2 linked regions of the Homo sapiens genome follow. The protein of the gene in region 1 interacts with the protein of each later gene in a pairwise test. Each region holds a gene or a part of one and is shown on either strand. Other genes may lie near its edges.

Region 1 (8,152 bases):
TCCTCAAGGTTATGCAGCAAAGTCCTCTAGAATAAGCCACTGAATCAGGAACAGAGATATGCCCCTCAAGGGGACAAAGGAGCAGAAGAACAATTCAGTGAGTGTGGACTCATGCAGAGGGTGCTCAAGGTGCTCCATTATCTGGTTCCTGCCCATTCAAGAGCGTTATCTCCCACCACTCCTCTTGTCCCTCACCTCTTCCCCACCTTATCCCTCACCACTCCCATGGCCCCTCATCTCTCCCCTTGTTCCTCACCTCTCCTGGACATACACCTCACCCTCTAAATATATTCAATTAGGCCAGCCGCAGTGGCTTACACCTGTATTCCAGTACTTTGGGAGGCCGAGGCAGGCAGACTGCTTGAACTAGGAGTTTGAGAACAGCCTGGGCTACATAGCAAAACTCCATTTCAACAAAAAATATAAAAATTAGCCAGGTGTAGTGGCATGCACCCATGGTCCCAGCTAATCGGACGGCTGAGTAGGTAGGAGGATCGCTTGAACCCAGGAGGTTAAGGCTACAGTGAGCCATGATCGCACACTGCAACCAAGCCTGGGCAACAGAGCAAGACCCTGTCTCAAAAACAAAACAACACAACTCTCTTATCTGCAATTCTAAGCCCACCATGCCTAATGTGCCCTAGTCCTGACATATTCCTGGAATGCCCTTCCCACTTCCTTTTTTTCACTCTCTGACAGGTCTCTCAATGTTTAAGACAGTTCAGGCACCACCTATTCTAGGAAGATTCCTTTGGGTCCATATTAAGAACAAGTGGTTCTTGATTGAAGGAGTCACAGCACCCACTGTAAACACCAGCATGAGAGCTCAAATCTGCCACTGTCTTTCTCATCTGAGTAGACTGTAAGCTCTTTCTGAGCAAAGACCACGTATGCTCTCTATATCCTCACAGACACTGAAAATATCAATCATAGACACTTAAGACATGTTTGCTGAATGACTGAACACATGTGACCCACAGTAATCTACAAAGGTATAATAATGACTATTTTTACAAAAAAAGAAATGTGAGGCTGAGAGGTTAAATAACCTGCCCAAGTTTTAAAATGATCAGACTCACAAGCCCATGTCATTATTAAAGGGCATTTTAAAATAACAGACTTGATATAAATGATGACTTCACTGTAATCATATAGCAGTCATCAGCTTACATTTCTGACAAAATTCTGAGGTGCACAAAGATTGATCACTTGCTAACGAACATGTAATAGGCACATTCTTAACCAATATTGCCTTCAGTTTCCTTAGCTATAAACATGAAATTATCGCCTACACTTTGCAGTATTTGAGTGGAGATTAAATGAGAAAACATCCAAATGCCCATTCTAGTTCCTGACACACTGTTGAAATGTATCAATAATGTTAGTTTCTTAATTACTCTAGAGTCTTTTCCTCTTAAATAGGGAGCAAGAGCCCAGGGAATCCCAACTCTTTGACTTATCTCTAAAATTTGATAAACTTACCTAATCATTTACGTTACATAATGAGGGTAATAAAATGTGGAACATGTCTACACAGAGGACTGCATACTAATAGCACCAATTCTCAACAGCAATTTGGAGAACAAAAAAACCAAAAAAACCTCTATATGTGATTAAGTCTGTATAGCACCTACCCTGAGTGGAAAATTTAAAGGTCGGCGGTAAGGCTGAAAGCCAACAGGCCCTCCCTGCTGGAGTATGGCTTGGTGGGCTGCATGAAGGCCTTCTCCCACCACAGGAATAGCGTTGTTATTTCGAGCATGCTGATTATTGTTAACTTGTTGATTTGCACTGTTTTCATTTTCTTCCTGGTCTCCCAATAAATAAGAATGAAGATCCCTGTGCAAAAATTACATCAGTAACAAGTCTCACTTCAGGTCACAATAAAATGGCAGACATGACACTCATTTTCTTCATATTTACTACTAAGGGTAGAAAATGTATAATACAGAATTTGTGCACCACATTATTACCTAATTTTGGTCTAAATGTTTGTACCCACTTTAAATCAAACCTTTCTAATGTTAATGAACTTGTAGGATATCCCATAAATTCAACCTATTTTACGTTTTCTTCAGCCAGTATCTGAGAAGAAATCAGTAACTGAAAGAAAAAAGTACAATGTACAAGATACTTACAAGTACACTTGTAAGTACAAGAGGTAAGTACTTACAAGCACAAGGTGTAAGTACATACTTACAATGTACAATATTGTTAAGGATCTACAGGAGGAAAAGAAAAACTTCTTATCTTCTCTACAGATGACTACTGCAACATGTAGCTACAAGCTATAAATTTGTAAAACCTCCAAGCTATAAATCAGTTAGGTCAGAAATGAGACTGGGGGAGGAAGCAGTTAGAGGACGACAGATGTTCAAGCAAATATAACCAAATCTGTACTTCACCTTTAAGATACCTACAAGATGCCAAACTGAAAAACTTTTAAAGATTCAACTTTTAAATAAATATAGAGTATATAAAGCTTGGGGAAAAAAATGCAACATGTTCACTAGAAGATTGAGAAATCAAATTTGAGAAGAACCCATTTCCCAGGTTATGAGCACTAAATAAAGGTAAGTTAGTTGGTCTAAATAAAGGTAAACTGGTTTGTTTTTAATGCACTAAAAAAAAAAAAGACATTTACTCCATGAAAGCTGGACCAGCAGCAAACTTCTATAAGAGGGCAAAAAGATGTATATATTCTCCATGAAAGGATGGACAATAAGAAAAAAAAATTTCATTTAGAAGTATTATATGCAATTGCAAATATTACTAAATTGTCTCTTATTAAAACTAATTTTTCTTGAGTGGGCCATGGAACATACTTTTTCCAGAAAGGTTATTCCATAGTCACAAATGACATGCATGTCCAAGGAGTCAGCTGCCCATACTCACAGCAAGTATCCGGCGGTCACAGTCCACGCTCGCACCAGCCCCTTCAGCCACTGCCTCGTGTGTCCCTGTTCGAGTAATGCTGGCAAGACAACCTGAAGCAGAAGCAGCTCGAGGGACAGTTCACTCACTGGAGCATCACTGAAAGAGGCAGGATTTATAATGTGAATTGTATTTTGCATATGACTACTATTTAATGGGATTACAACGCAACTTCTTAAGAATCTAATAAACTTACTGTCTTTATTACCTCTCCTTTCATTCTCTCTCCAACTCAGTGAGGCTTTCCCCACAAACTCCACCAAATTGTTTCTGATAAGGGTCACCAAAGACTTTCATTTTGCTAAACTGATGGGTAGGTCTTGGTTCTCTCCTCACTTGCTATATTAGTAGCATGTTACACAAAAGGTCACTCCTTCCTTTGACACCTCACATCCAAACAGCTAGAGAATCCTTTTGACTGTACCTTAACAATATCCTAAAAATTTCTCAAGGCCTCCACTGCTACCTCCCCTTCATCTCTGCCACCCTCACCTCTCACCAGGATCATTGCATTATCCTCCCAGCTGGCTTCCTGTTTCTGACCTAGCCACTCCAACCCAGTTTCCTCTCATCACAGCAGTCAGAATGATCCTCTTTAAACCTAAGTTAGATCACTCCTTTGCTCAAAGCTTTCCAAGAGCTCCTCAATTCACTCAAGCAAAAGCCAAAGTGCTTATGTCGTGTAAGACTCTCTAGGAGGTGGCTCTCCATGACCTTTCTGACTTCAGGGCCAATTCTTTGCCTTCCTCCTCCTACTACAGACAAACTTGCCTCCCTGCAGATCCTCAAACAGACCTGGGTGCCACTGCACCTACTTTCTGCAAGAATATTCTGCCTTCAGGGATCCACGTGGCTCACTCTCTCAACTCCTTCAGGGCTTTCCTCAACTGTCACCCCCTCAGGTCTTTACCAGTCACTATTCCTAAATTGTAACCCCATCCTGCCCACTTTCTATACCCTTACTGGCATTTTTTCTGCCACTTTAAATAATCAGGATATAAGTATTTTCCAATTCTAATTTAATAAAATACAAATTTGAGATTTTACTATGTGTAGAGTAAACCTTTTATTTTTGAACAATCATGTTCCTATGCAAAGCATTAAGATCCAAATAAGAGGCTGGGCGCAGTGGCTCACACCTATAATCCCAGCACTTTGGGCGACCAAAGTGGAAGGATTGCTTGAGGCCAGGAATTCAAGACCAGCCTGGGCAATATAGTCAGACCCTGTCTCCACAAAATATTTTTTTAAATTAAAAAAAGAGAGACAGAGAGAAAAAGACCTAAATAAGACATGATTTCTGCCATCTGGGATAAAACAATACATATTTGTAAAGTAATGTAACAAATGCTATAAAAAGAAATACAACGATGAAGACAATTTTAAAGGATGGAATGATGGCCAGGCACAGTGGCTCATGCCTGTAATCCTAACATTTTGGGAGGCTGAGGCAGGCAGATGGTTCAAGCTCAGGAATTCAAGACCAGCACAGGCAACATGGTAAAACCCGGTCTCCCCAAAAAATACAAAAATTAGGCAGGTGTGGTGGCTTGCGCCTGTAGTCTCAGCTACCCGGGACGCTGAAGTGGGAAGATCACTTGAGCCCAGGAGGTTGAGGCTGCAGTGAGCCATGATCATACCACTGCACTACAGCCTGGGTGACAGAGCGAGACTCTTTCTCATAAAAAATAAAATAAAATTTAAAAACCTTAATCTGGATTTTAAAAAGAATATCAAATGCTTGCCACTCAAACGTGGACAAGCAAGTCATTGTAAACAGAGAGAAAAAGACAAACAGCTAAGTAATCAGGGGAGCCTCAATGGCAGTGTAGCACAATTAAAAGAATTGAAGTCAGTCAATGCTGAGACAAGACACTGAAAAAGCAACATGAGATTATGCCAAGTCTTGCATCTCATTCTAAATGGTGTATATATCACATAGATTACAGAGGAAGTGCTGCCAACTTTTAAACACAGGGGTAAAATAATCCAAGTTCTAGAAAATCTAGAGGCAGAGGTGTTGCGGATGAATGGAGAGCAAGAGGAAGGCCTAAATTAAGTAAGTGGCAAATCGAGTTAGATTAGTAAGAGATTTTAAGAAATTAGAATTGGCAATACTTTAAAGACTCATTAGAAGTAAACTTGAGGAAATAATCCAATTTGCCTGCAATTGGGATAATGACTGTGGGGATAATACAAATCCCTAAAGAGCATATAGGATGAGTGGTAAAGATTACTGGTAGTGGGAGGTTTCCGGATGGCTTTTTTTTTTGGGGGGGGGGGGATGCAGTTTCACTCTTGTTGCCCAAGTGGGAGTGCAATGGCACGATCTCGGCTCACCGCAACCTCTGCCTCCTGGGTTCAAGCGATTCTCCTGCCTCAGCCTCCCGAGTAGTTGGGATTACAGGCATGCGCCACCACGCATGGCTAATTTTTTTGTATTTTTAGTAGAGACAGGGTTTCTCCATGTTGGTCACGCTGGTCTCAAACTCCCAATCTCAGGTGATCCGCCTGCCTCGGCTTCCCAAAGTGCTGGGATTACAGGCGTGAGCCACCACGCCTGGCCTTAGCCCACTTAAGTTTTTAAAGCAAAAAAGATGTTCCATCTACAAGCCTTGTACCCTATTTTTAATAATTAAATGTGCAACTCTGGCTTTATTCTTTATAATGTGCTTTTCAAAATAAAGATGATGCTAATACACTCTCATTAGGTATGGTAAAACATTTCAATGGTGTGCAAATGCATACTTTATGCGCAGAAAAAATAAACATCTTCCTTTACAAAATGTAAGTACTAATGTTTATCTGATCTAAAATAAGGCAAAATTTATGCAAAGTGGAAAAGGTCCAGAAAATTTTTTAAACATTAAATTTAATTTAAAAAATAATAAAAATAAAGGTAAAATAAAGCAAAATTTAATTGTCAGATGATTTCCAGTAACTATAAGAAATGTTTTAAATGTTTAATGTAATCTGAACATCAAATCCCTAATAGAGATAAATTAGTAAAGCTATTCTAAATTTTTAAAACTTACCTGTAGAGCATGACATTGTATGGAAGAAAATTAGGCAGCACACTCTTAATTATACGTATAGGAAGCCAAAGCATCAGGAGGACAATGGAGCCAAAGACAATCTGCAGAAGGAAACAGGGTATGACACCACTATAAGAGTCAATCACTCCTGTGCAAGACAGGCAGACTTCTGAGCACACTCAAGCAATATGCAGTCCAGGCCTGTGTCTACTCAAAGCCCAAGCGGTTCCCACTCTACACATTATCTTTGAGTCATTTTGTATAAAAATGTTTTCCTAAGATGCCTGCCCCTCTTCCTGTAAGGACCTCCCATCTAGGACACAAATGCTAAAACGGAAGCCACAAAGGATAATCACCACTTGCTACCTAAGGAATGAGCTGGAAACTTAAAATGAGGAAGCAGAAATGCCTGCAACTTAATAAATCACTTGTAACCAGCTAAGACTTGCCCCATGTTAATGGCTACAAAAGCTTTCAAAGGACATAATGTTACTTTAAGAATTTTATTTTAGAAAAACTTAGATTTACGGCTGGGTGAGGTAATCCCAGCACTTTGGGAGGCTGAGGTGGGCGAATCACTATGTCAGGAGTTCGAGACCAACCTGGCCAACATAGTGAAACCCCGCATCTACTAAAAATACAAAAATTAGCTGAGCTTGGTGGTGGGCGCCTGTAATCCCAGCTACTTGGGAGGCTGAGTCACAACAATTGCTTGAAACAGGGAGGTGAAGGTTGCAGTGAGCCAAGATCATACCACCGCACTCTAACATGGGTGACAGACCAAAACTCCATCTCAAAAAAAAAAAAAAGAAAGAAATTAGATTTAACTATGTAATTTCTTCTTCTGGGTGGGGAAACTTTGACATGCTTCTGTTAAGAGTTTAATTTACAAGCCAGTAGTAAGTCTCCATTGCTTCAATGCAAATTAAACGTAATTCAGACAACCGTAATTTAGCAATCAATCATACCAGTGGTCCCCAACCATTTTGGCATCAGGGACCAGTTTCATGGAAAACAGTTTTCAACGGGATTTCAGGATGAAACTGTTCTGCTTCAGATCATCAGGCATTAGATTCTCATAATGAGCACACAATCTGGATCCCTCGCACTCGCAGTTCCCAATAGGGTTCCCGCTCCCATGAGAATCTAACGCCAAGGCTGATCTGACAGGAGGTGGAGCTCAGGTGGTAATGCTTGCTTGACCGCTGCCCATCTCCTGCTGTGCGGCCATTCCTAACGGGACATGCACCAGTACCCAGCCAAAACATGGGGGCTAGGGACCCCTGAATTATACTACTATGGAACAAGGAAGTATCTTCCTTTTAGTAAATATCTTTTTACATATTTATTTTAACAAAGTAACCAATAACACAGCTACTTGACAACTGAATACCACAGGCTTAGATAAATATATTATTCAATATACTCTATCAGCCTGCTTGAGAACTGGAAAAAAAAACCTAAACAAAACTATAGGTTAGCACAATTAATTCAAAAAAAAAAAACAATGGAAACATCTTCTTACCACTGACAAAATAAATCTTCGGAGATGCCTATATATTGGCAAATGGATCATTTCCTGTACTGGATTGAAATCTGGATCATTCAAATTCCTTAGAAACCACAGGACACCAGGTCGAAGTACCTGCAAATATATTTTAAATACTATGAATATTCACCAATGTCTTCAAATTCTATATATGAGCTAAAACATTAACAGAAAGATAAGCACTTAGAATTATTCTGGCATCTAAAGTGGGCCCCAGAAAATGTACATGGTATTCTTAGGAAAGTAAGTTCCTAAACCAGAATCTTTATGAAAACTACCCTGTGTCTGATGATGTCCTTTGACATCATCATTCACTAGGGGCGGGGGAAAAAAAAAACATTCATTGGGTCCAATGTGTCAAGAAATCTAGACCTCTGAGACGAAAAATAAATACAACCATTACTATCGTAAAAGGGTTATGTTGCAATTTATAAATGTACTAAATAGACGGTCTGATTTGCCTTCCCCCTGTAAATGAAAATCATCACCCAAGAGGCTGCAGGTGATGGGGTAAAGGAGGAGTCTGGGTACTAGTTCTATGTGGTCCAAACTCACTGAGTTACCCTCTGTGTAACGCATCTAATCTGCCCAAACTTCTATTCTCCATCTCCTAAACAAGGGGTTACAGTGTGTG
Region 2 (6,572 bases), on another chromosome or scaffold:
AAATTTGTTGCTTGAGGATTACAACAAATTTACACACACACACACACGTGGGCATATGAACCACATACAAGGTATAAAGCATGACCTACAAACAAAACATTCTCAGTTTTAAGTATCTGAATCCCTTACACCTGGACATCTTTACCGTGTAAGGTTTCAAAAAAAGAAAAAGAAAAAAAAGGAAGTTACCAGATAATGACTCCGCAGCTTAAAAAAATAAAAATAATTAACACCACATACTAAGAATTCCCAACCCTTGATGAGTTACAAACTAGATAGTTGAGATTTTATCAGCCCTGAAAAGTTTAGCTCTATTCTTCAACTGTACAGAAAACATACATTATCTAAGCAGGGCAAAGAACTGCTTCAGTATGTATTGCTTTATTAGGTCAAGATGATTTCCCACAATACTTAAACCTGAAAAATTCATGTTCAAACAGCCAGGAAACATTTCGGCAAAGGAAGCACTTAAAAAAAAAAAAAAGAAAAGAAACCAATCCTTTTATTGTACAACTTAATAATTTAATGATTTCTGTACTTTCAAGTTTAAGAATAAAAGGTGACAGTTAATGTTTAAAACTGGAAACCAGATAATCACACAAAAATCACATTTATTTCAAGAGCTCAAAGTGCAAATACAGCAAGTCAGTTCACAAAGTTTCAAGATACAGTTTTTAATGACAATGGAAATTTGATATACAAAAATGGAAGGGTAAATAGAAATAAAGCTCCTCAATTTTTAAAAAAATTCAAGTAATTTGAAAAGCCTTTAGACTAAAATACTCCACTTACATCCATTCAGAAATGCCAGTACTGCACTGCAATCAAGAAGGACTCTTCAAAGAGAGAATCAGCTCAAACTGGTCAGCTCTAGATTAGAATGGAAGTTCTTGGTGCCGGCTTTTCTTGATTTGGAAGCTTCAGTCACTCACTGCTATCAATTGATGAGGTTCAATCCATGATATTTTGATCTTTAGGTGAATTCTAAAACATGTTTAAAGTTAAAAAGGCCGGGCGCAGTGGCTTACACCTGTAATCCCAGCACTTTGGGAGGCCAAGGTGGGCAGATCACTTGAGGTCAGAAGTTTGAGACCAGCCTGGCCAACATCGTGAAACCCCATCTCTACAAAAATACAAAAATTAGCTGGGCGTGGTGGCGGGTGCCTGTAATCCCAGCTACTTGGGAGGCTGAGGCAGAAGAATTGCTTGAACTGGGAGGCAGAGGTTGCAGTGAGCTGAGACTGTGCCACCACACTCCAGCCAAGGAGACAGAGTGTGGCTTTGTCTCAAAAAAAAAATAAAAAAAAAGTTAAATATAAGGCCAATACCACTATGAAGAATTTTCTGAAATGACCAGTATATATCTAAAAGATTTAAAGACCCAATGTGAACTTCAGGCCTATGGTTTTACTGGGAGAAAAGCCATAGATTAATACTTCTAGTATCCAAAACCTTCTTGGAAGCTTAGGAACATGGTCTTTTAAAACTTCCTCATGAAAACTGTACTTAAATATATATTTATTCATTTCTACATATATAGAACTTGTAGGTAAAGTAGAAAAAGTTCCCACTAGGAAGGTAATTAAAGGTTGTTAATGTTCTTTTTATCACTTAGTAGCCAGAAGACATGCTTATTTCTGCTCTCCAGAAGCAATGTTAGCTACTAGTTTCTGAATTCAGGAAAACGTTTATCTTTCAGGAAGGTTTACGTGAGATATTTATTCAGTCTTTTTCTCAAACTTCTTCCTCTTTTCATTATAGGCATTATACTGAGAGTCTGTTCCAAAAATTCGATCCCACCATGTAAATGTTGAAGCATAGTTTCCAATGAAGTTCATGTGGTGGAAATCATGATGCCGAGAACCAGCATAGAAAGGGATCAGATTTAAAGGGTTGAGAGGAATATCATAACCACTGAAACAAAAATGATAAAGATTATTAAGGAATAAATACATCTCAAATGATTGTTGTTTTTATTAATAATCATGTGTTCACATTAACCAATTTAGATAACATGCCACTTTGCCTAGACCACTTTATTTCTAAGTGTTCACAAACAGCAAACACAGAAAATGGTGTATATTCTAGAAACCACTCTAAGAAAAAAAATCCTTAAAAAAACTAAGAAAATCATTTATTTTATGATAAAATATATGAATGATGGAAGAGACGGATTATAGTAATGAATCTTTAGACACAGATTTTTAAGAATTAATTTTCTTTTATGTTTTAGAGGAAGCTTTCTCACCATCATGTATAACAGTTGTAAATAAAGCCCAAAATACTAAATATGTTTTTTAGGAAAAGTCACATAAAATTAGTATCAAGTATTAAAAAGGGCAGGCCCATGAATCCCTGTATAGCAACTTCATTTACTTTTTTAGGCAATGACAAGTTGGAATCAAATGTACCACAATTAATCAAAATACCAGTGTACTTTTCTATAGTTGGCAGAAGACAAATGGCTTCAAAAAAGAGTCCCATTTAAAGTATGCTCCTTTATTTCCAACTACATATCTACAATCAGACATCCAGTTATACTTATTTGAATCACTCTAACCCTCTCTTCCTTTGAGGAGCTTAGAGGAAGGAAGGCAGAAAGAAACAATGGATAGAAAAAAAAAAGAAAGAAATGTCAATTACAATTTTTCTACAGAAGAATATTCTCTGCCTAGGACTAGAAGCATTAATTTTGCTACTTTAGCACTTTAAAAATAATTCTTAGAATTTGATATTCTGCATTCATGAGTACAGAAGTATGTCCCAAGTCAAAATGCAATGAACATATAATTAAAAAATAATGAACAATTAGGATAAGCATTTAAGAAGGCATTCAATATAAATAATTTACCACAAAATGTCTTCCAATCAACAGAAAGGATGCATTTGAAATATGTATGTGTTACAAGTAGTAGTTTCATCTTGCAAGTGCCTTTATCAGTGCTGAACAGTAGAGATTAGAAAGTCTTATTCAAGGAAGGCTGAATGCTTTGATATTTTTTTCAAATATGAGTTAAGTTTAGGTTTATTACAGAAGGATAAGGAAATTGCTGGTCCTGAATATATACTTGCCCTAATAACACATTATCACTATAAAAATTATAACAGCATAGGCTAGAATGTAAAAACATCTATTATTTAAACTTTTATCCAACAGTTATGTTTTCTTAATATAACATTAAGAAGATTAACTTCTCCTATTAGTCTCCTTAGAAATATGATAATCTTATGGCCATGAAAATAAATATATTTCATTATGCTTTATACCTGAACAGAAATTAATACTCACCTATGGACATCAATAGTTTCTAATAAACGAATGGTCACCCATGCCCAAAGAAGAATTACATGATCACACAAAAGCACGATTCCAATGAAAAATCCAGTTCCAAGAATTAGAGTCTCCAAAGGATGTGCATATTCAGCTTCCATTCCAAATGGAGCCTAAGACAAACAGATAAGAAATTCTTAATTTCTTAGCTATTGTGATGGTCAATTTTATGTGTCAACTTGGCTAGGCTATGATATCCAACTGTTTGATTAAATACCAGTCTAGATGTTGTTGTGAAGGTATTTTTTAGATGTTGTTAACATTTAAATCAGTAGACTGAGTAAAGGTGATTACCCTTCATAATGAGGGTGGGCTTCATCCAATCATTTGAAGGCCTTCAGGATAAAAGGCTGAGGTTTCCTGAAGAAGGATTCTCGAGACTGCAACACTGAAACCCTGCCTGAGTTTCCAACTTGCTGCTCCATGGAATTTGGACCCAAGGCTGCAACAATTCTTACCTGGATTTCTAGTCTGTAGCCTGCTTTACAGATTTCAGACTTGACAGCCGCACACTTGCATGAGCTGATTCCTTAAAATAAATCTCTCTCTGCATATATATACCCCAATGATTCTGCTTCACTGGAGACTTCACTAATATATATATCCTATTTATGCATAAAGTTTTACAAAGTTATATTGATTCTATATGTAGTGATGATTTATCTAGTCATACACTTATAAATAATACTAGCAATTCTCAATAAAAATACCTTACTCCACATCAAAAGTCTAGGGATATAAAATCTTGCTGTCTTTGATGGTTTAAGATAAAGGCATTAAATAATTGACTTGAACTCTAATTTTGACTTAAGTATTTATATTTGTTCTTCTAATAAAGAGAGGCTTGATTTGGCACACCATGTAATCACGGTCAATGCAAAACATACTCACATAACCAGTTGACAAAGCTACATCAAAGCAATTCTAATTGGCCGGGCATGGTGGCTCACGCCTGTAATCCCAGCACTTTGCGAGTCCAAGGCGGGTGGATCACCTGAGGTCAGGAGTTCGAGACCAGCCTGACCAACATAGTGAAATCCTGTCTCTACTAAAAATACAAAATTAGCCACGCGTGGTGACGCATGCCTGTAATCCCAGCTACCTGAAAGGCTGAGGCAGGAGAATTGCTTGAACCCAGGAGGTGAAGGTTGCAGTGAGCTGAGATCATGCCATTGCAGTCCAGCCTGGGCAACAAGAGCAAAACTCTATCTCAAAAAAAAAAAAAAAAAAAAAAAAAGCAGTGCTCATAGAAGTTACTGTTTTTGTGGGAGTTAGCAATGTGAGGATCTAGCTGTGCCAGTGTAGCACTGTCCACAAGGATGGAAGTCCGAACTTTCATATAATATTTTTCTTTCAGATCTCAATTTACCATGAAATTTAAATAATGAAAACAATGTGTAGAAATGGCTTGTTTGTATGTGTGTGTATTGTTCTTAATAATCATGCCAAAGGAAAAGAAAATAAAAACGTCACCAACAATTTTAGAAAAATGCTCAGGCAATTAAAATAGACATTTTGCCTCTAACAGAAAGAATTAAATATAACTCTCACATACCTGAAACTCATGATGAACTTTATGAATATACTTGTATATTCTTTTGTGGTGTAAGAGTCTATGCAGAAAATAGTGCCAAGTATCTTCAATGACTGCACAACCAAAGCATCTTGCCAAAAGAAAATACCTTTAAGATAAAAATGTTGTAATGTGTAAGAAATAATTTTTACTTAAACTATCCAGACTTTTAGTTGGGATCACTGCTTGAGACATTACATAAAACCACCCACCCACTTACCAGGTTGACCTAATTGGATATATTCATAAATAAATTCTCAAAACCACCAGATACAGCTACATAACTTGATATAAGGTTAAAGAGACTGCCCATTAGACCAATTTCATTTCATTACAATGTTCACACAACTTGCCTCATGACACTTTTCTCAAGAGATATCCGTTAAGTGACGCATGAGTATATATATGTGTGTGTATATATATATGTGTGTATATATATATATATATATATATACACATACATATTTTTGTTCATGTAAACACAATTTCTATAAACCTCATAAATGATTCTCATATATTTCATTCATTTTAAAATTAAAATGTAATATATTTTTGTCAACATAAGCACTTATACATGTATATAAACATACAAAAGACGTTATGGAAACTTCTGATACTAGAAGCTCACCTTCCAATAAAATATTTAAAAGATGTAAAAATGGAAACATTTTAAGATTTTACTGTGGTTTACTTTTCTACTATTTATTTACTTCCAAAGTTTAGAACAAACATTAACTAAAATTAAGAAAACGGGTAAACATTAAGTATAACTTAACTGAATAAGCCACAATTGGGTGTAAAAGCCAAATTTTTATCTACGTACCATCTTGGCATTCTTTCCCAATCATAAGGAATATTGAAATACTCTGTAAAATAATAGGTTCCACAAATCAAAGGCAGCTGGATACAGAAGTGATTAAAGAGAAGAACTTTGAAACACTTCCATTGGTTTTCCCATGTCTCTGGCTTATCCTACGAAGAAAAATCACAATATCTAATATTAGTCTCTGCTATCAGAGTTTAACTTGACCTAATTTGTTCTCTGTTTATGTTGGACCTTAATTCTACGTCAGTTATGTTAACTTTATATAACTAAGACTCAGGAATCTTTGCCTTCTAAATTCTTGACAACTACTATCACTACTTCAGGTGAAGAAACTGTTAACAGATGCGCCTAGCCATGATGATCTCAAACAAACTAAGAAACACTATGGAATGAATAATTCTCCAGTCTTTGCTGCCACAGATCATTCACTTCACTTCTTTTACCAGAAGTTTCAGAGAAGAAGAAATATAATATGCTAAGATTACTGTTGGGTGTCCACAATTGAAGAAGTTGTATACGAAGCATTGGAAGCCTTTTACACAGTAAGTCGATGCTTCCAGGCACTCAGTGGTATTCATTCCAACAAATAAATGCACTTTTGTTCAAATCCAATGACAGAATTATAAACTCTCTGAGTTGAGAAGTACACAGATATGTCCTGATTATGGAGTTCACAGATTCAAGTCAAAATGAGAAAAGTTAGATCAACATGGGATGTTCGTTAAGACCTCATCAGGATACCCATTTGCTTAGCAAGTCATTATAAAAAACAAAGCAAAACAAAACAAACACTAACTAAATGTATTCAATTTATAGGACTGCACTTAAAAAAGTGCTTTGGG

The links. The genes of interacting proteins can lie anywhere in the genome.
Region 2: the proteins of MARCHF6 (region 1) and MSMO1 interact in a protein complementation assay, tested with the Homo sapiens proteins (one study listed by BioGRID).

What each region holds. Positions count from the first base shown.
Region 1 is NC_000005.10:10,405,020-10,413,171, reverse strand, and holds part of MARCHF6 (E3 ubiquitin-protein ligase MARCHF6), read right to left. Parts: intron 7,615-8,152; coding exon 7,495-7,614; intron 6,071-7,494; coding exon 5,970-6,070; intron 3,034-5,969; coding exon 2,896-3,033; intron 1,840-2,895; coding exon 1,635-1,839; intron 1-1,634. UniProt on the Homo sapiens protein: Endoplasmic reticulum membrane-associated E3 ubiquitin ligase that plays a critical role in mitigating endoplasmic reticulum stress, the regulation of cholesterol and lipid homeostasis, and ferroptosis.
Region 2 is NC_000004.12:165,337,093-165,343,664, reverse strand, and holds the end of MSMO1 (methylsterol monooxygenase 1), read right to left. Parts: intron 5,877-6,572; coding exon 5,728-5,876; intron 5,014-5,727; coding exon 4,887-5,013; intron 3,445-4,886; coding exon 3,290-3,444; intron 1,915-3,289; coding exon 1,719-1,914; 3' UTR 501-1,718; downstream 1-500. UniProt on the Homo sapiens protein: Catalyzes the three-step monooxygenation required for the demethylation of 4,4-dimethyl and 4alpha-methylsterols, which can be subsequently metabolized to cholesterol.